Homo sapiens: one gene and its partners. The protein of the gene in region 1 purifies or fractionates together with the protein of each later gene. This does not show direct contact. Each region holds a gene or a part of one and is shown in the gene's direction. Other genes may lie near its edges. The genes, in order: PCMT1, KLHL18, MAN2C1 and ALDH16A1.

Region 1 (7,034 bases):
GTGCTGGGATCACAGGCGTGAGCCACCGTGTCTGGCCTTAATTTGTATATACTAAATAAAGAACGTTTCTGCTTTCTGCCTATGGACACTAAAAGTTGTTTATAATGATGTCAAATGACTATTAATATAAAATCTGGGCCGGGCACAGTAGCTCACGCCTGTAATCCAAGCACTTTGGGAAGCCGAGGTGGGTGGAGTACTTGAGGTTAGGAGTTCGAGACCAGTGTGGCCAATATGGTGAAACCTTGTCTCTACTAAAAATACAAAAATTAGCTGGGCATGGTGGCGTGTGCCTGTAGTCCCAGCTACTTGGGAGACTGAGGCAGGAGAATCACTTGAACCTGGGAGGCAGAGGTTGCAGTGAGCTGAGATCGTGTCATTGCACTCCAGCCTGGGCGACAGAGTGAGACCCTGTCTCAAAAATAAATAAATAAAATAAAATAAAATCTGTAACTTGGTGATGTATGTGCTTTTTTTTTTTTCTTTTAGCTAATAGATCAGTTAAAGCCCGGAGGAAGATTGATATTGCCTGTTGGTCCTGCAGGCGGAAACCAAATGTTGGAGCAGTATGACAAGCTACAAGATGGCAGCATCAAAATGAAGCCTCTGATGGGGGTGATATACGTGCCTTTAACAGATAAAGAAAAGCAGTGGTCCAGGTGGAAGTGATTTTATCTTCTGCTCTTTCTTCTTCCACACATGCAAGGTGAAAGGGTGTGGATTTTAAGACATTAGACTACAAGAGCTGTTTTTGGTTGTCACCTTTATGCTCCTCCATTATAACGTCAGAAATTCATTACATTAAAAATGTGAAAAATGTTGCATGGTCTGCCCTTATTTTGGTTTAACATATATATCTTTGGGAAAGGGAGGGTGAGACTTGGTTGGCACAAAGGCTTTTTTTGTTTGTTTGTTTGTTTTTTTTTTAGAGAGACTTTCAGCTTCAATTCAGTACTTTGTAAGGATTTTTTCTTCATTATCAGCCACTCTGTTTTTATGTTTTTAAATTATTTTTATAGCACTGGATGGGCATGGAAACAATGAGTTTGGTCTGTAAAAGAGGCCAGGCGGAGTGGCTCATGCCTGTAATCCCAGCACTTTGGGAGGCCTAGGTGGGCGGATCACTTGAGGTCAGGAGTTTGAGACTAGCCTGGCCAACATGGTGAAACCCCGTCTCTATTAAAAATACAAAATCAGCTGGGCGTGATGGCACAGGCCTGTAATCCCAGCTACTCGGGAGGCTGAGCCAGGAGAATTGCTTAAACCCTGGAGGCGGAGGTTGCAGTGGGCCGAGATTTTGACACTGCACTCCAGCCTGGGAGACAGAGCAAGGCTCTGTCTCAAAAAAAAAAAAAAAAAAAAAAAAAAAAAACAAGGGGCCATCATTTCCTGCCCTGTTTATTGTACCAACAAGGAGAAAGAAGGGGAAAGATAACGGTCGTCTCAGTTTTCTAAAATGTCAGAATACCAGAGAGGACATTCTACCTCTCAGCTTGGTTTATCTGTTTCAACCAAATCATAGATACCTGACAGCCCATGCCTATTTTTCATTCAGCCTTGTTTAAGAGTCACCTTCTCCCCATTCTATAGAATAGGCCAGCCACTGTTTAAGCTATTCTGGCTAAATTCCTAGGAAGAGGCAAGGATTCTACAAGTTACCCAATGAGTGCCCAGGTCTCACAAACCCACCCAGAGGGTCAGCAGCATGCAGCAACTTTCAGCACAGCATGGTTTATAAAGAATGTCCACTTTTGTTTTATGTCTCAGCATAATCTGAATATTTTGTTTGAAGCCAAGATTTCTCTTTTCCTCCCCTTCCCACTCCCTTCCATGAGAGAGAGTGACATCAGTACATAACAGTGCCATTAGCTCAAATTACTTGAAATTAAATGCCAAAACAAGAACGGCTTTACAGTTTCCTTGTCTTAGCATCTTATTTTTATTTGACATAAAGATTCTTATTTTAAAATAATTAGTTTCTTAATAAGTAAAAGGGGTGATAATAAGTTTAATAGATCTCTCAATGTTGTTTTTATTCTTCACCAATAGCTATTTTCTGTGAATTATACGTGGAGCACAGCCACTGGAAAAAAAAAAAAAAAAAAAAGCATTTTAGTCCAGGCATTTTGGGAGGCTGAGGTGAGCCAATCATCTTAAGTCAGGAGTTTGAGACCAGCCTGGCCAACATGGTGAAACCCTGTCTCTACTAAAAACACAAAAATTAGCTGGGCATGTTGGCTTGCATCTGTAGTCCCAGGCACTCAGGAGGCTGAGGCAGGAGAATTGTTTGAACCCAGGAGGCAGAGGTTGCAGTGAGTCGAGATCACACTACTGCCTTCTAGCCTGGGTGACAGAGCGAGACTCTGTCTCAAAAAAAAAAAAAAAAAAAAAAATTAAAAAGGCATTTAAAAAATTACTGGTTTTTTCAACTGGAATCAGATGTAGTTATTAACAACTAACTAAAACCTTCCTTCACTTTGCTTCTAGTATGGTTTATACAATTACATAATTGTGAGATTATTGTAGTATAAAAGGGGCAAATATGTTACTGAAATTACTGAAATTTGATAAGAAGAGTTGATTTTCATTAGCAACTTAGAAATTTTTCTTTTTATATACAATAAATATTAGTGTTGAACATCTTGCCTATAATTTATAATTTATAATTATGAAGGAATTATAAAAAGGGAATTTTGTTTTTATGACTAGAGGTAGATTTACTGTGAAGCTAACAAAGCTGAAGCTGCAGAGCCCTTGCTTGTCTAGGTTTTCTCTGACCCTGTTCTTAATTTAATTTAATTTAAAAAAGTGTTTTTTTTGAGACGGAGTCCTGCTCTGTTACCCAGGCTGTGTAGAGCAGTGGTGCAATCTCAGCTCACTACAACCTCCGTCTCCCAGGTTCAAGCAATTCTCCTGCCTCAGCTTCCCAAGTAGCTGAGAGTATAGGCGCCCAGCTAAATTTTGTATTTTTAGTAGAGAAGGGGTTTCACCATGTTGGCCAGGCTGGTCTCGAACTCCTGACCTCAGGTGATCTGCCCGCCTCGGCCTCCCAAAGTGCTAGGATTACAGGTGTCAGCCACCATGCCTGGCCCTGTTCTTAATTTTATATTATGCATAGTCTTACTGATTTTTTTTTTAACTTCATAAAAAGGTTCCCCTGTTTTCTAATTATATAAACCTTAGGCCCCCACAAAACCTGAATCCACCTTTGATAAAACCAAACTATTTGTATTAAGAAATTTAAAATAGGGCCAGGTATGGTGGCTTATGCCTGTAATCCCAATGCTTTGGGAGGTTGAGGTGGGAGGATCACTTGAGGCCAGAAGTTCAAGAGAAGCCTGGGAAACATAGTGAGACCTCGTATCTACTAAAAATTTAAGAACTAGCCAGGCGTAGTGGTGTGCACCTCTAGTTCTGGCTACTTGGGAGGCTGAGATAAGAGGATCACTTAAGCCCAGAAGCGGCAGTGAGCTGTGATCACCACAGCATTCCAGGCTGGGCAACAGAGCAAGACCTTATCTTTAAAAAATATATTTAGAATAATTTTTAAATTTATGGACAATTAGTCATCTGCTAAACATTAAATGTATACCTGCTTTTAGGCTGGGCGCAGTGGCTCACGCCTGTAATCCCAGCACTTTGGGAGGCCAAGGCGGGCAGATCACAAGGTCAGGAGATCGAGACCATCCTGGGTAACATGGCGAAACCCCGTCTCTCCTAAAAATACAAAAAAATTAGCCGGGCGTGGTGGCAGGTACCTCTAGTCCCAGCTACTCGGGAGGCTGAAGCAGGAGAATGGCGTGAACCTGGGAGGCCGAGCTTGCAGTGAGCTGAGATCGCGCCATTGCACTCCAGCCTGGGCAACAGAGCGAGACTCCGTCTCAAAAAATGTATACCTGGTTTTCTTTTTGACCTTCAAAGTTTTTTAAAAATTGAACAAATTTAGGCTGGGCACAGTGGCTCACGCCTGTAATCCCAGCACTTTGGGAGGCTGAGGCGGGCGGATCACGAGGTCAGGAGATCGAGACCATCCTGGCCAACATGGTGAAACTCCATCTCTACTAAAAAAACAATACAAAAATTAGCTGGGCGTGGTGGCAGGCACCTGTAATTCCAGCTACTCGGGAGGCTGAGGCAGGAGAATCACTTGAACCTGGGAGGTGGAGGTTGCATTGAGCCTACATTGTGCCACTGTACTCTAACCTGGCGACAGAGTAAGACTCTGTCTCAAAAAAAAAAAAAAAAAATTGAGCAAACTTACATGTTCGCACTATCAGAAAAAAAAAAAATTTCTCCAGGTGTACCAGGAGGACTTTCTAATTTTTCTGTTGTAGATGCTTTTCTTTGGCCATTTGTTCAGTTGCTAAATATTTTTCAGCGTGAGGATCTTCTTAATATTATTCGTGAATTCAACCAATATGCATATGCCAACTAGGCCAGGCACTGTACTAGGTGCCAGGAGTCATCAGCTGTGAATTTGAAACTGACTGCTCTCATGGAGCTTACAGTAACGTAGGAGATGCAAAGACCAAGATGAATAGGCAGTTATAGGGTAGTGTTCAGACTCGCGGTAGGGAGCCAGGCATTGAAGTGGTCAGAATTACATTTCAGAAAGATAACTCTAGCTGTTATGTAGAGACTAGCCTGGGAAGGGACAAAAGTCGAGTCAGAAACAGGAAGTGGTTATAGCAATTCAAGGATGAAATGATGGTCTGCATTAAGGCAGTGTTAGTAAGGATAGAGAGAAGTGGGTGGATAGCTACATCTAAAATACTGTCACTGTTTTCTGGGAATTATCATCTAAAAAGTTCCCTAGTCAACTTCTTGCCAGGCTACGTGATTTCTGTTCTTTCAAACTTTCCGTTTTTGTTTTTGTTTTGTTTTATTTTGTTTTGTTTTGATACAGTCTCTCTCTGTCACCCAGGCTGGAGTGCAGTGGCATGATCTCTGCTCACTGCAGCCTCAACCTCCTGGGCTCAAGCGATCCCCCCTGCCTCAGCCTTCTGAGTAGCTGGGACCACAGGGTGTGCCACCATACTCAGCTGATTTTCTTGTTTTTTTTGTAGACAAGGGGTTTTGCCATGTTGCCCAGGCTGGTCTCGGACTCCTGAGCTCAAGCGTTCCACCCACCTCAGCCTCCCAAAGTGCTGGGATTACAGGCTTGAGCCACCAGCCTCAAACTTTCTTCAGGATTACTTTAACTCATTATAATACTTTCCTAGGAACCTTCTCTTGTGTCTCACCAGCTTTCCACCTTTCTTACTGAGGAATAATCCAGAGCTAATTGCGGTGCTCTGATGAGGGTGAGATCCCATTTTTGCTGAGGCGATGTGGCAGAAACTGTATTTTTAAAAATGAGAATTAGTGGACATGTGGAATTCTAGTACCAAGTAAAGATCCAAACTTGAATGTAGACTTGAGTCTTTTTACACTTGGAAAGATGTCACTTGTAATTTTGGTGGATTAATAGAAGGGGAGACAATGCCAGATCTATAGGCCAGAGACCTAGAATCTGTGGAATTGTGTTCATGACTATGGACATGTAATAGTTGTATTAGTTGCTACAGAAAGTTAATAGTTCTTAAGTATTATTTTATTTTAAATAAATAATTTATATGTAAAAATATTTTGTTAATCTTCTGGTAAAAGTTTTATTTTTATTTATTTATAGATATTTTTGAGACAGAGTCTTGCTCTGTCACCCAGGCTGGAGTGCAGTGATGCGATCTTGGCTCACTGCACCTCCGCCTCCTGGGTTCAAGTGATTCTCCTGCCTCAGCCTCCCGCATAGCTGGGACTACAGGCACGCACCACGAGGCCCGGCTAATTTTTGTATTTTTAGTAGAGACGGGGTTTCACTGTGTTGACCAGGCTGGTCTCAAACTCCTGACATCAAGTGATCCACCCGCCTCAGCCTCCAAAACTGCTGGAATTACAGGTGTGAGCCACCACACCCAGACTATTTTTGTTTTTAGTAGTCACAAGAGTTAGTGTAATTGGTCCATCTTTAGTTTGTGAAACTGAGGAATGTTCAAGTTTATTATTCCATAAGCTCTTTGTTTATTGATGTCTTCTTAAAGTGCCTTGCATCTATGAAAAAGATGTTAGGAATTGACTGCATTTCCAAGACTGACAGTATTGGTGCTAAGGGATCCAATTGATCCCGTGTTCCATATTCTATATTGTTCCTTTTTAATCTCTTTACATATGTTCCAGTATTGTGACATACATTACATCCTTAAAAGCAGGGATATATTCTGTTACTTTTGGAATTCTTTTTGTCTCTCATAGTGCTTCGTACAAAGCAAATTGTACAACACTTTTATTACCTTGGAAGATCCATGAAATTATTAGAAAACGTTCATGGATTTTGATTGTTGTTTCCTTATAGTATATCTTTTCATTTATTCTTGGTAAAGAATGTATAAGACTAAATGTTAGTATCATAGAGTTAATAAAATCTAATAAATAATTAAATTATGTATAATTATATACTAGTAGAAATATATACAGTTATTAACCTAATGAATATATTTAGCATAGTATATAGCAATTTTAAAGAGCCTTTCTAAAAATTTAGTACATACTATTTTTTATTGTAAATGATCTATACATGTAAGTCAGATAAAGAAATGGTCATACAGAATTTTGAACATTGGGGAAAATTTAATAACTTGAAAGTTACATGGATTTTAGAGTATTAGGCTTTTAAAAAATTGTGCACGCGCTGGCAGCAAGTTTTTGTTTTTCCCTAGCACCTCTAATTTTAAAATTCAGGTCTATAAACCTAATTTCTTTTCCTTTTTTAAAGTATTTTTTAGACAGAGAGGATAGTTGGAAAAATGGTACCTATGTTGTTGAGGGGGCATTAATTTATTTACAGTATACTTAATGTCTTGCAGCAGGTAAATTGTAGTAAATTATTATTATTATTATTGTTTTCTGAGATGGAGTCTCGCTCTGTCGCTCAGGCTGGAGTGCAGTGGCGTGATCTCAGCTTGCTGCAACCTCCGCCTCCCTGGTTTAAGCGATTC
Region 2 (7,034 bases), on another chromosome or scaffold:
AAAAGCATGCCCGGCCAATTTTTAATCTGATCAATACCATCCCTACAGAGAATCAGTCATGGAGCCAAATAAGAATCCCCCAGGGTCTGCTGCTGTCACCAAGATTTTAGAATCGCACTGGGCTCGTTTGGAATTTTCTTAGATGCAACAGTAGTAAGAAAAACAAGCTGGGCACAGTGGCTCATGCCTGTAATCCCAGCACTTTGGGAGGCCAAGGCAGGAGGATTGCTCGAGCCTAGGAGTTTGAGACCAGTCTGGGCAACATAGGGAGATGCTTTCTCTACCAAAAAACACTTTTTTTTTTTTTTTTTAATTAGCTAGGTGTGTGGTTTCAGCTACTTGGCAGGTTGAGGTAGGAGGATCACTTGAGCTCAAGAGGTCAAGGCTATCATGAGCCATAATTGCACCACTACACTACAGCCTAGGTGACAGAATAAGACCTTGTCTCAAAAAACAAAAACAACCATAATAAAAAATTAAGACAGCCATTAACTTCATACCAGGTACCATGTATCATGGCTCAGCCCTAAGAGGTGGGTAGCTGTTGTCATCATCTTCTTTCAGGTGAGCAAATTACTGACACTTGGAAGAACATAACCCACCCAAGTTGCCCCATGAGCATCAGGGCCAGGATTTATCCTGGGTTTCTCTAGCCCTGATGAGTGTAAGTCTGCCAGGCTACCGTGGGAATGTGCACAAGAGTCCTGATTTCAATCTCAGCACCACCACTTGCTTATCTCAAGGGACTGTGAGCACCATTTTTGGTTTCCCTGAGCCTGTTTTCCATCTGTGAGTGCGTTACTACTTTACAGGTTAAGAAGATTCTGGAGAATGTGTATAAAAGGCCTAGCAAAACACTTGACTCACTGATGGTAAATAAATGATAGCTGCTGCTGTTGTTTCTGCTTGTCTGAACAATTAGGCCCGTGGAGTCTCTTTCTATCTAAAACAAGAAAAAATCTCAGCATTTTGGGAGGCCGAGGCAGGTGGGTTGCTGGAGTTCAGGAGTTCAAACCTGCCTGGACAACATGGTGAATCCCTGTCTCTACCACAAAAAGTACAAAAATTAGCCAGGCATGGTGGCACCTGTAGTCCCAGCTACTTGCAGGGCTGAGGCAGGAGGATCGCTTGAGCCCAGGAAGTCAAGGGTGATGTGAGCCGTGTTCACGCTACTGCACTCCAGCCTGGGGGACAAAGTGAGACCCTGTCTCAAAAAAGAAAAAAAAGGAAAAAAAAAGACAAGTATAAGAGTTCCCATACTAAAGAAGCCATCTGTCCGTGTTGTGTTTTTTTTGTTGTTGTTTTGTTTGTTTTTTGTTTTTTGTTTTGAGACGGAGTCTTGCTCTGTCGCCCAGGCTGGAGTGCAGTGGCGCAGTCTCGGCTCACTGCAAGCTCCGCCTCCTGGGTTCACAGCATTCTCCTGCCTCAGCCTCCCAAGTAGCTGGGACTACAGGCGCCCGCCACCACACCCGGCTAATTTTTTGTATTTTTAGTAGAGACGGGGTTTCACCGTGTCAGCCAGGATGGTCTTGATCTCGTGACCTCGTGATCTGCCTGCCTCAGCCTCCCAAAGTGCTGGGATTACAGGCGTGAGCCACCGTGTCCAGCCCTGTCTGTGTTTTTTAAACTCTAATTCTGTGACTTCAGTGCCTTCCTTGTGACCAAAGTTGAGATAATGCCCTGGACACTCAACCAGGAATTTCAGTGGTGGAACGTCTCAAACAGATTTTCAGTGCCTGCACTCCTGTGATGGTTACTTCTCACCTTCTGACAGTTACTTTACAGAACTACCCAGAGAGCTCATTCCACCTGACGCACAGAGCACCAGGCCCAAAAGGCAGGGACCTTTGAGGATAATCTTTCTTCTTAATTTTATACCTTTAGAAGTTGAGTCCCAGAGAAATACAGTTTCCAACAAAGCTGAGGTTAAGAATTTGTTTTCATTCTGTGGCTCTACCCAGAACCAGCCTGAGAATGATCAAAGATAACATCCTTTCTTCCTCTAATTTTTTTTTTCTTTCCTTATGCCAAAGGCTTCACCCAAAAAACTGCCTGGGTGTGCGCCAGTTTGCTGAGACAATGATGTGTGCTGTGCTGTACGACGCTGCCAACAGCTTCATCCACCAGCACTTTGTGGAGGTGTCCATGTCAGAAGAGTTCCTGGCCCTGCCCTTGGAAGACGTGCTTGAGCTGGTGTCTCGGGATGAGCTGAATGTCAAATCTGAGGAGCAGGTATGTGAGCCCAGTAGCAGTCTGTGCAGGTGACATGAGATGCTGCTCTTTATAGTCATTGTTTTGTTTATGTATTTTTTTACAAAGTTAAGATCATGACATGTATGTGGCTGTTGTATATTATTGGGCTTGTTTTACTGTATCATGCATTTTTCATGAAAACTTTCTATGTTTTATTTATTTTTTTGAGATAATATCTTGCTCTGTCACCTAGGCTGGAGTGCAGTAGCAAGATCATAGCTTACTGCAGCCTCATCCTCCCACATCAGCCTCCCGAGTAGCTGGAACTACAGGCACATACCACCACACCCAGCTAGTTTTTGTATTTTTTGTAGAGACCGGGTTTCACCATGTTGCCCAGGCTAGTCTTGAACTACTGTCCTTAAGTGAGTTCAGCCTCCCAAAGTGCTGGGATTATAGGCGTGAGCCACCGCACCTGGCCTCCATACATTTTAGTGTCTAAATAGCATTCTGTTGATTTTTGTCAACCTACTCACCTTATTCTTGCATGTTTGGGTTATTTCCAATATTTACTATTAGAAATAATCCTCCTGTGAACCAGAAACAGCAAGCATAGATAATTTTTTTGTTGTTTTTTTGAGTCAGAGTCTCATTCTGTCACCCAAGCTGGAGTGCAGTGGTGCGATCTTGGCTCACTGCAACCTCCATCTCCCAGGTTCAAGCAATTCTCCCGCATCAACCTCCTTGAGTAGCTGGGATTACAGGCATGCACCACCATGCCAGGCTAATTTTTATACTTTCAGTAGAGACGGGGTTTCACCATGTTGGCGAGGCTGGTCTCGAATTCCTGACCTCAAGTGACCCGCCCATCTTGGCCTCCCAAAGTGCTGGGTTTACAGGCGTGAGCCACTGTGCCCGGCCTAGTATAGATAACTTTTTGAAAGAATCTTGTTCTAAGGAAGAACAGAACATTGGGGCAGCTGTGGGAGGGGTCTGTGAAATCAAGAGGGGTTGTTGTTTGTTTGTTTTTGAGAAAGAATCTTGCTCCAACGCCCAGGCAGGCTGGAGTGCAGTGGCAACAATCTCAGCTCACTGCACCTCTGCCTCCCGGGTTCAAGCAATTCTCCTGCTTCAGCCTCCCAAGTAGCTGGGATTACAGGTGCCCGCTACCATGCCTGGCTAATTTTTATATTTTTAGTAGAGATGGGGTTTCACCACGTTGGCCAGGCTGGTCTTGAACTCTGGCCTCACATGATCCTCTCACCTTGGCCTCCCAAAGTGCTGGGATTATAAGCATGAGCCATCATGCCAGGCCTTTTTTTTTTTTTTTTTTTTTTTGTGAGACAGAGTCTCACTCTGTCACCCAGGCTGGAGTGCGATGGCACAATCTCAGCTCACTGCAGCCTCAGCCTCCCAGGTTCAAGCATTTCTCCTGCCTCAGCTTCCCAAGTAGCTGGGATTACAGGTGTGCGCCATCATGCCTGGCTAACTTTTGTATTTTTAGTAGAGACGGGGTTTCACTATGTTGGCCAGGCTGTTCTCGAACTCCTGACCTCAGATGATCTGCCCACCTCGGCCTCCCAAAGTGCTGGGATTACAGGCGTGAGCCACTGCGCCAGGCCCGACCTTTTTTTTTTTTTTTTAAAGTGAGAGAAATTACAGCATATTTGACTGCTGTTGGGAGTTTTCCAGAAGAGAGGGAAGAATTGATAATATTGGAGAAATGGGAGAGCAGTTGTTGGAATGATGTTCTGGAATAAGTGAGGACAGTCTAGGGCATAAGGGTGTGCATCTTTGATAGGAGCACAAGCCATCCATATCCACAGTAGCAGGAGGGAGAGCTGGGGCACACGCCCAGGGACGGGGGACAGGTAGATTCTTACTGAAATTCTCTTCTGATTTTCTATTTTCTCACCTGAGAGTGAGGATGAGGGACGAAGGTTAGAAACTTAAGGAAGGCCGGGAGCAGTGGCTCACGCCTGTAATCCCAGCACTTTGGGAGGCCAAGGTGGGCAGATTTGTTGAGCTCAGGAGTTTGAGACCAGCCTGGGCAACATGGCAAAACCCCATCTCTACTAAAAGCACAGAAGTTAGCCAGGCCTGGTCCAGCTTAAACTCCTGGCCTGTAATCCCAGCTACTTGGGCTGAGGTGGGAGGATTGCTTGAGCTGGGAGGCAGAGGTTGAGGTGAGCTGAGATTGCGCCACTGCACTCCAGCCTGGGCGATGGGGCAAGACCCTATCTCCAAAAAAAAAGAAAGAAAGAAAGAAAAGAAAAAAGAAATTTGAGGAGGGATTAAAAGGTATGATTTATTTTCCTCTTTCCTCTAGAAAAGGGGGATGCTAGAGAGGTGAAGCGGGCTTGATAGGAGCCTGGGAGAAAAGTGGATCCTGGGCTTGGCAGCATAGACACTGTGGTTTCGAGGAAAAAGCCTCATTCCAAAAACTAGGTGTCCTGTCCCTAGCTCTTAAACTAATTAATATGACGGGGGGCGGGGGGGCAGCTCACATTTCTTTGAGTGATACATTTCATAAGGGCTGTAGGGCTTTAGAGGGAGAGGTCCTTGTGGTTGGAGCCATTAAGAAAGGCTCCTTGGAGAACATGGATCTAGAGCCAGGCCTTAAAAATAGGGGAGTGGGTTTAGATGAAGAGGAGGAGATGAGGGCATTTTAGATGAGGGGGGACAGTGTAAACAGGAGAACCAGCCCAGCCTTGCCGGAGTACAGAGAGGGTGATGGAGGGAGTTTAGAGGGAGCAGGGGTACAGGAGCAGCGGGAAGGGAAACAGGCATTTTGTTTTCACAGAAAGTAATAAGATGCCATTGATGATTTTTCACTAGGAAATCATAATCATAATGAAATTCAGGAAGCTGTTCTAGTAGCCTAGGAAGTAGAGAGAAATCAGGGATTTCAGAGACAAGTAGGAGAAAAGATTGATGGGCCCAAGGGACTGCTTCAGTATAGGAAGTGGAGGCATTGAGATTGGAGGCCTGGGGTGTGGCCTCTGGGTGGGAGGATTTGCTGCCAGAACATCCACTCTCATGACAGGTCTTTGAAGCTGCATTGGCCTGGGTCAGATACGACCGGGAGCAGAGGGGTCCCTACCTGCCTGAGCTGCTGTCCAATATCCGCCTGCCCCTCTGTCGGCCCCAGTTCCTTTCAGACAGAGTACAGCAGGATGACCTGGTGCGTTGCTGCCACAAATGCAGGTGAGTGAGGGTGGACCTGCACAGGACACTGCCAAAGGTCTAAGCAGGGAAGAGGAGTTGGCCACCTGTTCCAGTTCTGGAAAGAAAGCATTTAGAGTGATCAGTCTAATTCATGGCACACAGATTGGTCTGCCCTCTGTCTAGAAGCTGGAACAGGAAGTGTGAAGAGCCCGAATCTTATGCCTTGGGCAGAGAGATGTGCCATGTGGGAGCATCAAAGCAGAAAGGGCTTTCCCCTGCTGAGTTATCTGAGGATTTTCCAGCATCTTTCCCCACTGAGCTATTTATGAATGTGCAACCATCTTTACTGCCTGCTCTGACCCTGTCCACACCAGCAGCTCACTCAGTGGCGCAAATGGGACTTCCTGGGGCTCATTGCCCTCTTCAGTAAATATTAGTCAGTGCTGTGGGCATGGAGGGCCTCTGCCAGGTGTAGGCTTTACATCTACGATGATGGGCAAGGGGCAGACATGTTTACCAACACATGAAACTTTTACCCAGAGCAAATCAATGACAACATGGTACAGCAGAGTTACCCAAACAGTTCAGAAGATGGCAGCCCTATAGGATGATTGCTGTAAAAGTAGAACAGCAGAGAAAAATGTTCATTCTCCTCCAGATTGCTTATCAAATTCACAACCCTGAAATATTTTTTTCTCCTTTGCTGATAAAAACTTTACACACATTCAGCTTTCTTTCATTTTCCAACTCCTGGTTGGGATCAGCTGGTTCAGGAGGAAGTAAGTGCCTGTCCATGGCAGATGGTGTGAAGGTGTGTGTCAGGATGGGGTGGAGTAGTGTCTGGAGGTAGCTAGGGCCCAGTGACCAGCGGTCTCAAGGGTGCTGTTGAGGAGTTTGGACTTTATTCTGTCGGCAGTGGGTGGCTATTGAAGGTTCTTAGCTTGAACTCTAGTGTGGAAGTGGAATGGAGGGGCAGGCCTGAGGCAGGGAAATGTGTCAGGAGCTGCCACCGTGGAGATGAGTGGTGATTAATTGCAGGTTGCAAGCCACGGTGCAGTCGTAGGGATGGAAAGGAAGGGCTAGGTCTGAGTGGCAACAGGGTGCATGCTGCTTGTCGAAACTCCCAGGTCCAGCCATTTTGGCCACTACCTTGTTTTTCTCATGCCTAATCTACACTAGCTGAGGTGGTCTTTGCTTGTCTTGCCCCTTTAATTTTGAGTATATCTCAGTAGCCATGTATGATTTTCCCAGAACTCACCTGGTTTCTTTGAGACCAGACCTTCCAGAAGGCTTCTCCTCCCAGGTTTCCCCTGCAGTTGGCAGTGGAGAGCCAGGCTCAGAGATGCAAACGAGGACTAAGTCAGGGGGATACCTCCTGTTCTAGCATCTTCCACCTTATTCTAGGGACCTGGTAGACGAAGCAAAGGACTACCACCTCATGCCAGAGCGCCGGCCCCACCTGCCAGCTTTCAGAACCCGGCCACGCTGCTGCACATCCATCGCTGGACTTATCTACGCTGTAGGGGGCCTCAACTCAGCAGGTACCTTGCGGCTCCCCTTTATAGACCCTCCTCTTGGACTCCATGGATGAGGAAGCACCAGACAAATTAGCCTGGCCCTTCTGGTTTCTCTGTTTTGTACTGTCACCACCCTTGCCCCTCTTGATTTTATAC
Region 3 (3,350 bases), on another chromosome or scaffold:
GTATGTCCACCCCTGTCCCATAGGAAGCCTGTGCTGGGCCAGGCAGGGACCCTGGCAGTGGGCACCGAGGGCGGCCTGCGGGGCAGCGCCTGGTTCTTGCTACAGATCAGCCCCAACAGTCGGCTTAGCCAGGAGGTTGTGCTGGACGTTGGCTGCCCCTATGTCCGCTTCCACACCGAGGTAGTCGGGGGGTAGGGGGTGGCTGTTTTCCCCAAGTGTGCTTGGTAAGGAGGGGCCAGCCCCAGGCCTTGGTGTGTCTCTTCCTTCCCTGACTCCCACCCTCCTTCCCACTCCCAGGTACACTGGCATGAGGCCCACAAGTTCCTGAAGGTGGAGTTCCCTGCTCGCGTGCGGAGTTCCCAGGCCACCTATGAGATCCAGTTTGGGCACCTGCAGCGACCTACCCACTACAATACCTCTTGGGACTGGGCTCGATTTGAGGTCTGACATGGCAGGGTGGGAGTGGCCTTGGACTCCTCCCTGGCTGGGGAGACTGCTTGTGTGGAACAGGCTGGGGAGGAAGAGGATAATCAACATTTGCTGCTTCCTAACGTGTGTGCCAGGCATTGCACTAAATGCTTTACATTGGCAAGGCACAGTGGCTCACGCCTGTAATTCCAGCACTTTGGGAGGCCGAGGTGGGTGGATCACCTGAGGTCAGGAGTTCAAGACCAGCCTGGCCAACATGGTGAAACGCCATCTCTACTAAAAATACAAAAATTGGGCCGGGCGTGGTGACTCACGCCTGTAATCCCAGCAGTTTGGGAGGCTGAGGTGGGTGGATCACGAGGTCAAGAGATCGAGACCATCCTGGCTAACACGATGAAACCCTGTCTCTACTAAAAATACAAAAATTTAGCCGGGTGTGGTGGTGGGCGCCTGTAGTCCCAGCTACTTGGGAGGCTGAGGCAGGAGAATGGCGTGAATCTGGGAGGCAGAGCTTGCAGTGAGCCAAGATCGTGCCACTGCACTCCAGCCTGGGCGACAGAGCGAGACTCTGTCTCAAAAAAAAAAAAAAAAAAAATACAAAAATTGGCCAGGCGCAGTGTTCTCAGGCCTATAATCCCAGCACTTTGGAAGGCCGAGGTGGGCGGATCACGAGGTCAAGAGATCGAGACCATCATAGACAACATGGTGAACCCCCATCTCTACTAAAAATACAGAAAAATTAGCCAGGCGTGGTGGCACATGTCCTGTTATCCCAGCTACTCGGGAGGCTGAGGCAGGAGAATCGCTTGAACCCTTTAGGCGGAGGTTGCAGTGAGCTGAGATTGTGCCACTGCACTCCAGCCTGGCAACAGAGTGAGACTCCATCTCAAAAAAAAAAAAAAAGCCGGGCGTGGTGGCACATGTCCTGTTATCCCAGCTACTTGGGAGGCTGAGGCAGGAGAATCACTTGAATCCTGGAGGGCGGAGGTTGCAGTGAGCCGAGATCAAGCCACTGCACTCCAGCCTGGGTGACAGACTGAGATCCTGTGTGAAAAAAACAAAGTTTTACATTTAATTTGATACTCATGATCATTCGATGGGGTGAGTACTATTATTTATTCCCGTTTCACAGATAAGGAAACTGAGGCTTAGGCAGGTTGGGTGGCATGCCCAGGGCCCCGTACAGTGGGAGCTGGAGTTCAGTTGTGTGGTTCTAGAGCTTGTGCTCGGCCTAGTGACAGGAGCTCTGGAGTCTGGGAGCACAAAGAGGGGCACAGGGCCACCAAGTGGGTCTTGGATCTGCCCTCCAGGTGTGGGCCCATCGCTGGATGGATCTGTCAGAACACGGCTTTGGGCTGGCCCTGCTCAACGACTGCAAGTATGGCGCGTCAGTGCGAGGCAGCATCCTCAGCCTCTCGCTGTAAGTGGGGTACCCACCAGGCCTGGGAGCTGGCATGGAGAAATGGGTCTTCCCGACCACAACTCCAACAGCTTCAGCGTGGCCCCTACGCGCCCTCCTCACCCCAGCTTGCGGGCGCCTAAAGCCCCGGACGCTACTGCTGACACGGGGCGCCACGAGTTCACCTATGCACTGATGCCGCACAAGGGTGAGTGCTGGGGACGGTGGGGCCTTCCTGCAGCCCTAGACACCTCTCTGCCCTTCCCTGAGCCCAAACCCCAGCAACCTGGCTTCCTGCCCCTTCTAGGGACAGGGGAGGGTAGCCCCCATTCTCCACCAGCATTGTTTCCTGGTCGTACCCCAGGCTCTTTCCAGGATGCTGGCGTTATCCAAGCTGCCTACAGCCTAAACTTCCCCCTGTTGGCTCTGCCAGCCCCCAGCCCAGCGCCCGCCACCTCCTGGAGTGCGTTTTCCGTGTCTTCACCCGCGGTCGTATTGGAGACCGTCAAGCAGGCAAGGGGTGGGACGTGCTGGGGACGGGGTTCCGAACTGGGCCTGCCCTCGGCCCCTCCCACCAGACGTGTTCCTCTGCAGGCGGAGAGCAGCCCCCAGCGCCGCTCGCTGGTCCTGAGGCTGTATGAGGCCCACGGCAGCCACGTGGACTGCTGGCTGCACTTGTCGCTGCCGGTTCAGGAGGCCATCCTGTGAGTGGCGGTGTGGGATTGGGGCGGGGGTCGAGTCTCGCCCTCGCAGAGCCTTCATGGCCCCTCCTGTTCTCCAGCTGCGATCTCTTGGAGCGACCAGACCCTGCTGGCCACTTGACCCTTCGGGACAACCGCCTGAAGCTCACCTTTTCTCCCTTCCAAGTGCTGTCCCTGTTGCTCGTGCTTCAGCCTCCGCCACACTGAGTCCCTGGGGCTGGGGTTTTGTTTGTAGAAGGCTCTGGGGACTCCTAATTTCTGCTTCCCCAGCCTAAAGCAGGGATCAGTCTTTTCTTGTGGAATAAATCCTTGGATCGGGAACCCTGCTGCTCAGTCCCCTTAGGGCCCATCCTCACGCTTGGGGTGGGGGTGGGAAGTCTGGGGTGGGATGGCTTCCCAGGTATTTGGTGGGTAGGGGCAAGATCCTAAGGTACCTGTGCGTGCAGGGTCTGGGTTGCAGCCCCCACAGGAGAGACTGGGGACCTCGAGCCACCAAAAGCCAGTGAAGAGACCATGAGTTGAGAAGCCCCTCCCCTGTGCCAGCAGGTAAAGGGCCTGGGCCTGGGGCTGGGGAGGGGCCGAAGGGTGGGTTTTGCCTGGCTCCTGCCAGGATGAGGGGGCAGCCCTGGACCCTGGAGAATCTGGACTGGAGGAGCTCTGGCTCCTGGGCTGCCTGGGGCCAGGGTCTTTGTACCACCTCTGAGGGGCTGTCCTTGCAGAGGCAAACTGTCCTCTGATAGAGTCAGAGCCTTGAGGACTGGGATGGGGGCTCAGTTTGCCTTGTGAGGAGCTGGGCCTTCTGTCACCAGGACCGGACAGCA
Region 4 (7,034 bases), on another chromosome or scaffold:
AGGCTGGGGGTCCAGACTCCTGGGTCTGAGGGAGGAGGGGCTGGGGGCCTGGACTCCTGGGTCTGAGGGAGGAGGGGCTGGGCCTGGACTCCTGGGTCTGAGGGAGGAGGTGCTGGGGCCTGGATTCCTGGGTCTGAGGGAGGAGGGGCTGGGGCCTGGACTCCTGGGTCTGAGGGAGGAGGGGCTGGGGGTCCAGATTCCTGGGTCTGAGGGAGGAGGGGCTGGGGGCCTGGACTCCTGGGTCTGAGGGAGGAGAGGCTGGGGGTCCAGACTCCTGGGTCTGAGGGAGGAGGGGCTGGGGGCCTGGACTCCTGGGTCTGAGGGAGGAGGGGCTGGGCCTGGACTCCTGGGTCTGAGGGAGGAGGTGCTGGGGCCTGGATTCCTGGGTCTGAGGGAGGAGGGGCTGGGGCCTGGACTCCTGGGTCTGAGGGAGGAGGGGCTGGGGGTCCAGACTCCTGGGTCTGAGGGAGGAGGGGCTGGGGGCCTGGACTCCTGGGTCTGAGGGAGGAGAGGCTGGGGGTCCAGACTCCTGGGTCTGAGGGAGGAGGGGCTGGGGGCCTGGACTCCTGGGTCTGAGGGAGGAGGGGCTGGGGTCCTGCAGTCCTCGGTCTCAGCAGGAAGGGACCAGAAGTCGACTTCTAGATCATTTCTCTCCCTAGGTGTTCCAGGCTGGTGATGTGCCTTCGGAACGCCCATTCTATCCCCCAACCTTGGTCTCCAACCTGCCCCCAGCCTCCCCATGTGCCCAGGTGGAGGTGAGACCCTTAAGGCTGCAGAGCTCCTACCCACCGCCAGCCAAGGGCAGCAGCTCTGTGCCTGGGGAAGCCCTTGGGGTAACCATGTGACCTGGGCGTGGGGGCTGCTGCCTGCTCTAGGCTCCTTCCCTGGTGGGTGGGCCCTGGAGGGCTGAGCCTCCCGGTCACCCCTTGCAGGTGCCGTGGCCTGTGGTCGTGGCCTCCCCCTTCCGCACAGCCAAGGAGGCACTGTTGGTGGCCAACGGGACGCCCCGCGGGGGCAGCGCCAGTGTGTGGAGCGAGAGGCTGGGGCAGGCGCTGGAGCTGGGCTATGGGTCAGTCTGCGTGGCCCGGGCGCTCACTCCTCTCCTCATTCTTCCATCTTCATCTCCCTTCTCCCTGGGTCGCTCCCCGCGCCTTTAACTCACCCCTCTCCCGGCCTGCCACCGTCTGTTTTCCTCTGTTGGACACCTTCATCTTCCCCACAGGCTCCAGGTGGGCACTGTCTGGATCAACGCCCACGGCCTCAGAGACCCTTCGGTGCCCACAGGCGGCTGCAAGGAGAGTGGGTGTTCCTGGCACGGGGGCCCAGACGTGAGTACATCCCCTCCCCGTCACCAGCCCCCCCGCCGCCCCATGCCCTTGACACTCGCATCCGGCCTCGCGTGCCCCTTGCATCCTCTTGACACCGTCCCTCTCACAGGGGCTGTATGAGTATCTGCGGCCCTCAGGGACCCCTGCCCGGCTGTCCTGCCTCTCCAAGAACCTGAACTATGACACCTTTGGCCTCGCTGTTCCCTCAACCCTGCCGGCTGGGCCTGAAATAGGGCCCAGGTGAGTCGTTGGGGGCCAGTGGTCTGGGAGTGTGAACGGGGAGAGGGGAATTGATGCCTGTTTCCCCGTGGACTGGAGGGCTGGCGCGAGGTCCATCCAAACCATCTCTTAGTCCTGCTGAGTACCACGTTGTGGCCTCACACTTTCCCTACCCCAGGCCTGCCGAGACTCTCAGCTCTGCCCCATGAATGTCTGTACTCTCCCAGAAACTCATGGGTCTAGGAGCTTGGGGTCCCCCAGAGGTTCACTGGAGCAGAAGCTTGGGGTCCCTCAGAGGCTCATGGGAGCAGGAGCTTGGGGTCCCCCAGAGGCTCATGGGAGCAGAAACTTGGGGTCCTCCAGAGGCTCATGGGAGCAGGAGTTTGAGGTCCCCCCAGAGACTCAAGGGAGCAGTTTAGGGTCTACCAGAGGCTCATGGGAGCAGGAGCTTAGGGTCCCCCAGAGGCTCATGGAGCAGGAACTTAGGGTCCTCCAGAGGCTCATGGGAGCAGAAGCTTTGGGTCCTCCGGGGCTCATGGGAACAGGAATTTGGGGTGCCCCACAGGCTTATGAGAGCAGTTTAGGGTCTGCCAGAGGCTCATGGGAGTAGGAGTTTAGGGTCCCCCAGAGGCTCATGGGAGCAGGAGTTTAGGGTACCCAGAGGCTAGTGGGAACAGGGGTTTGGGGTCCCCCAGAGGCTCATGGGAGCAGAAACTTGAGTCATCCAGAGGCTCATGGGAGCAGGAATTTGGGGTTCCCCAGAGGCTCATGGGAGCAGTTTAAGGTCCCCCAGAGGCTCATGGGAGCTGGAGTTTAGGGTCCCCCAGTGAATCATGGGAGCAGGAGTTTTAGGGTCCCCCAGAGGCTCATGGGAACAGGGGTTTGGGGTGCCCCAGAGGCTCACGGGAGCCAAGGCAGTCTTCCCAGTGCGGTAGAGCATAGGGTCTGAGCAGATTGAGGCCCCAGGACTCCTCCTCATGTCCCACCCTACTCCAGCCCAGCACCCCCCTATGGGCTCTTCGTTGGGGGCCGTTTCCAGGCTCCTGGGGCCCGAAGCTCCAGGCCCATCCGGGATTCGTCTGGCAACCTCCATGGCTACGTGGCTGAGGGTGGAGCCAAGGACATCCGAGGTGCTGTGGAGGCCGCTCACCAGGCTTTCCCTGGGTAAGGGGTCACACGGGAAAGCCCAAGGGTCATGGTGTGGCAGAGAGGGGAGCCTGCCCACAGCAATTGGTGGACTGGGAGGCTGGGCCCCCAGGGTAGGGGCTGTGGACAGAGGTGGGGTGTCAGGAGAGCCAAGACCAGGATGCCAACCCCCACTGTGCGCTGTCTGCCCACAGCTGGGCGGGCCAGTCCCCAGGAGCCCGGGCAGCCCTGCTGTGGGCCCTGGCGGCTGCACTGGAGCGCCGGAAGTCTACCCTGGCCTCGAGGCTGGAGAGGCAGGGAGCGGAGCTCAAGGCTGCGGAGGCGGAGGTGGAGCTGAGCGCAAGACGACTTCGGGCGTGGGGGGCCCGGGTGCAGGCCCAAGGCCACACCCTGCAGGTGAAGGGTCTGTGGGCACCTGGGCCAGCTGGGCAGGCGGGGTGGGGCTCAGACCAGAGGCTGTGAGATAACCCAGGCTTGGAATTCGGGCCCAGCCCCACCGCCTTCCACGGCAGGATCATCAGCAAGTGGCTTCACCTCTCCCTACCTCAGTTCCCTCATCTGTACAGTGAGTGGGCACACAACCCGCCTCGTAGAGTAGCGTTCGCCAGATGATGGATAGCGACCCATTCCTGGACCCTAAAATCAATTTAGTGGGCTGTTAGGCGGTTCTCACATTGCTGTAAAGAAACACCTGGGGGCGCAGTGGCTCACGCCTGTAATCCCAGTACTTCGCGAGGCTGAGGCAGGCGGATCACGAGGTCAGGAGATCGAGACCAGCCTGGGCAACACGGTGAAACCTGGTCTCTACTAAAAATACAAAAAATTAGCTGGGTACGGTGGTGGGCACCTATAGTCCCAGCTACTTAGGAGGCTGAGGCAGGAAAATTGCTTGAACCCAGGAGGCAGTGGTTGCAGTGAGCCGAGATCGTGCCACTGCACTCCAGCCTGAGTGACAGAGTGAGACCTTGTGTCACAAAAAAAAACAAAAAACAAAAAATACCTGGCCAGACATGGTGGCTCACGCCTGTAATCCTAGCACTTTGGGAGGCAAAAGTGGGTGGATCGCTTGAGGCCAGGAGTTTGAAACCAGCCTGGGCAACACAGTGAAACCCTGTCTCCACAAAAAATAGATAAATTAGCTGGGCATGTTGGCACCAGTCTCCCTCTGGCACCCGGCTGGAGTGCAGTGCCACAATCATGGCTCACTGCAGCCTCAACCTCCGAGGTCCAAGTGAGCCCCCCACCTCAGCCTCCTGAGTATCTGGGATCACAGGCACACACCAGCACACATGACTGGGTGTTTTTGTATTTTTGCAGAGACAAGAGACTCGCCATGTTGCCCAGGCTGATCTTGAACTCCTAGCTTCAAGTGATCCGCCTGTCTTGACCTCCCAAAGTGCTGGGATTATAGGCGTGAGCCACTGCGCCTGGCCAGGGATTACATTTCAACATGAGATTTGGGTGGGACATCTGAACTATATCATGGGCCAAACCATATTTCTTTCTTTCTTTTTTTTTTTTTTTTGAGACAGAGTCTCGCTCTGTCGCCCAGGCTGGAGTGCAGTGGCGCAATCTCGGCTCACTGCAACCTCTGCATCCCAGGTTCACGCCATTCTCCTGCCCCAGCCTTCCGAGTGGCTGGGACTACAGGTGCCCACCACCACACCCGGCTAATTTTTTTTTTGTATATTTAGTAGAGACAGGGTTTCACCATGTTAGGATGGTCTCGATCTCCTGACCTCGTGATCCGCCCACCTTGGCCTCCCAAAGTGCTGGGATTACAGGTGTGAGCCACTACACCCGGCCTTCTTTTTTTTAAATTTTATTTTACTTTAGTTCTGGGATACATGTGCAGAACGCGCAGGCTTGTTACATAGGGATACACGTGCCATGGTGGTTTGCTGCACCTATTGACCTGCCCTCTAAGTTCCCTCCCCTTGCCTCCCACCCCCCAACACCATATTTATTTTTAACAAAAGAAAATAGACCAGGCGCAGTGGCTCACGCCTGTAATCTCAGCACTTTGCGAGGCCAAGGTGGGCAGATCACAAGGTCAAGAGATCGAGACCATCCTGGCTAACACAGTGAAACCCCGTCTCTACTAAATATACAAAAAAAAAAAATTAGCCGGGCATGGTGGCAGGTGCCTGTAGTCTCAGCTACTCAGGAGACTGAGGCAGGAGAATGGCGTGAACCCGGGAGGCGGAGGTTGCAGTGAGCCAAGATCGCACCACTGCACTCTAGCCAGGGCGACAGAGTGAGAGTCCGTCTCAAAAAAAAAAAAAAAGAAAGGCGGTTATGCAGGATGTTTCTCACCGCCCGAACCCCCGTGGAATGATTCACTTTGACCAGCGTCTGCGAAATGGCAGGGGCTTCCACAATGGTGCGGTTTGGGCCAACACCAAGTGTTGGGGAGAATGTAGAGGAACTGGATCTCTCATTTACTGCGGGCGGGGCTCCCCTGCCCCACACGTGACCCACCTGTCCCTGCAGGTAGCCGGGCTGAGAGGCCCTGTGCTGCGCCTGCGGGAGCCGCTGGGTGTGCTGGCTGTGGTGTGTCCGGACGAGTGGCCCCTGCTTGCCTTCGTGTCCCTGCTGGCTCCCGCCCTGGCCTACGGCAACACTGTGGTCATGGTGCCCAGTGCGGCCTGTCCTCTGCTGGCCCTGGAGGTCTGCCAGGTATAGCCCCCTGCCTTCCTGCCTCTCCTCCCCGTAGCCTCAGGGCAGCAGAAAAAGGCGCCCCAAAGTCGGCAGGAGCTTGTCTCTTACCCCACCCTCCGTGGTACCCATGCTGCCCCCAGCCCCAGCACCCAAACCTTCACTCCTTGGGGACCCAGTGCCCATTCTTCACCCTAGGCCTGGGGCTTTCTCCTCCATGACCCCCCATCCCCTTCCCTCCCATGGGCACCCCCTGAATGCCCACTCCTTGCCCTGCCCCCACGGCCTCCCCAACCTTTCACTCTCTCTATCCCCTAGGACATGGCCACCGTGTTCCCAGCAGGCCTGGCCAACGTGGTGACAGGAGACCGGGACCATCTGACCCGCTGCCTGGCCTTGCACCAAGACGTCCAGGCCATGTGGTATTTCGGATCAGCCCAGGTGCTCTTTGTTCTGTTTTGCCATCTTCAGCATCTCAAACTTCAAACAGGCTCCTCCTTTTCTGGAAACACAGCCCCGCCCTCTTAGAACTCCTGTTGGTAAGGGGAGAAACTCCTTGACAAGAAGGTTTTGAGGCCCCGCCCTTAGGACTCAAGTTACTAAGGAAGAGGCTGTCCTTAGCAACAGGGGCCTGAGAGCTGCCTAGCCCAAAGACCTCGTCTCAGGGGACAGCCCGTTGCTAAGGACCACACCCTAGATTTGGAGGCCCACAGTCTACGCTTTGTTTTTCTATTTTGAGACAGAACCTCACCCTGTCACCCAGATGCAATCATACCTCACTGCAGCCGCAACCTCCCAGGCTCAAGCCACCGTCCCACCTCAGCTTCCTGAGTAGCTGGGACCACAGGCGTGCACCACCATGCCCAGCTAATTTTTTTCTTTTGCAGAGACTGGGGTTTCTCTATGTTGGCCAGGCTGATCTTGAACTCCTGGGCTCAAGTGATCTGCCCGCCTCGGCCTCTCAAAGTGCTGGGATTACAGGTGTGAGCCAGCACAACTGGTTGAGTCTACTGTTTTTTTTTTTATTTTATTTTATTTTATTTTATTTTTTTTGAGACAGAGTCTCACTCTGTCGCCCAGGCTGGAATACAGTGGCACGATCTTGGCTCACTGCAACCTCTGCCTCCCGGGTTCAAGTGATTCTCCTGCCTCCCAAGTAGCTGAGACTACAGGCACTCACCGCCATGCCCAGCTAATTGTTGGGGGTTTTTTTTTAGTAGAGATGGGGTTTCGCCATATTGGCCAGGCTGGTCTCGAACTCCTGACCTCGCGTGATCTGCCTGCCTCAGCCTCCCAAAATGCTGAGATTACAGGCGTGAGCCACTGTGCCCAACCAATTTTTACTTTTTAAATGGAGACGGGGTCTCGCCATATTGTCCAGGCTGGTCTCAAACTCCTGAACTCAAGCGATCCTCCCGCCTCAGCCACCCCAAGTGCTGGGATTACAGGAGCGAGTCACCGCGCCCCACCGTCCACTCTCTTAAACCTCCTGTTGGTAACAGATGTGAACTTGTTGACAAGAGCCTTGGGGCCCATTCCTTTCAACATGGGCTGTTAAGGGAGAGGAAATTCCCTAACCACTGGGTCCAGTGCTTTTCCCTACCATCTGGAAGTTCTGCTTGGGAGGAGCTGGGCATTGTAGCTGCAGAGCCTGGGTCCAGCCTGAAGCCCCTCGTCAGTAAC

What was found.
Region 2: the proteins of PCMT1 (region 1) and KLHL18 purify together in Homo sapiens (affinity purification with mass spectrometry; 3 studies listed by BioGRID and IntAct, with this or other methods). This does not show direct contact.
Region 3: the proteins of PCMT1 (region 1) and MAN2C1 purify together in Homo sapiens (affinity purification with mass spectrometry; 3 studies listed by BioGRID and IntAct, with this or other methods). This does not show direct contact.
Region 4: the proteins of PCMT1 (region 1) and ALDH16A1 purify together in Homo sapiens (affinity purification with mass spectrometry; 3 studies listed by BioGRID and IntAct, with this or other methods). This does not show direct contact.

Annotation. Positions count from the first base shown.
Region 1 is NC_000006.12:149,801,711-149,808,744, forward strand, and holds part of PCMT1 (protein-L-isoaspartate(D-aspartate) O-methyltransferase), read left to right. Parts: intron 1-489; coding exon 490-669; 3' UTR 670-706; exon of another isoform or gene 707-821; intron 822-1,414; exon of another isoform or gene 1,415-2,083; intron 2,084-3,592; exon of another isoform or gene 3,593-3,629; intron 3,630-7,034. UniProt on the Homo sapiens protein: Initiates the repair of damaged proteins by catalyzing methyl esterification of L-isoaspartyl and D-aspartyl residues produced by spontaneous isomerization and racemization of L-aspartyl and L-asparaginyl residues in aging peptides and proteins.
Region 2 is NC_000003.12:47,327,918-47,334,951, forward strand, and holds part of KLHL18 (kelch-like protein 18), read left to right. Parts: intron 1-2,033; coding exon 2,034-2,232; intron 2,233-5,239; coding exon 5,240-5,400; intron 5,401-6,765; coding exon 6,766-6,902; intron 6,903-7,034. UniProt on the Homo sapiens protein: Substrate-specific adapter of a BCR (BTB-CUL3-RBX1) E3 ubiquitin-protein ligase complex required for mitotic progression and cytokinesis.
Region 3 is NC_000015.10:75,355,292-75,358,641, reverse strand, and holds the end of MAN2C1 (alpha-mannosidase 2C1), read left to right. Parts: intron 1-23; coding exon 24-180; intron 181-297; coding exon 298-441; intron 442-1,526; exon of another isoform or gene 1,527-1,739; coding exon 1,740-1,849; exon of another isoform or gene 1,850-1,956; coding exon 1,957-2,036; exon of another isoform or gene 2,037-2,192; coding exon 2,193-2,341; exon of another isoform or gene 2,342-2,422; coding exon 2,423-2,532; exon of another isoform or gene 2,533-2,609; coding exon 2,610-2,736; 3' UTR 2,737-2,850; downstream 2,851-3,350. UniProt on the Homo sapiens protein: Cleaves alpha 1,2-, alpha 1,3-, and alpha 1,6-linked mannose residues on cytoplasmic free oligosaccharides generated by N-glycoprotein degradation pathways.
Region 4 is NC_000019.10:49,463,195-49,470,228, forward strand, and holds part of ALDH16A1 (aldehyde dehydrogenase family 16 member A1), read left to right. Parts: intron 1-659; coding exon 660-755; intron 756-932; coding exon 933-1,069; intron 1,070-1,222; coding exon 1,223-1,328; intron 1,329-1,437; coding exon 1,438-1,568; intron 1,569-2,543; coding exon 2,544-2,711; intron 2,712-2,887; coding exon 2,888-3,089; intron 3,090-5,186; coding exon 5,187-5,372; intron 5,373-5,669; coding exon 5,670-5,792; intron 5,793-7,034.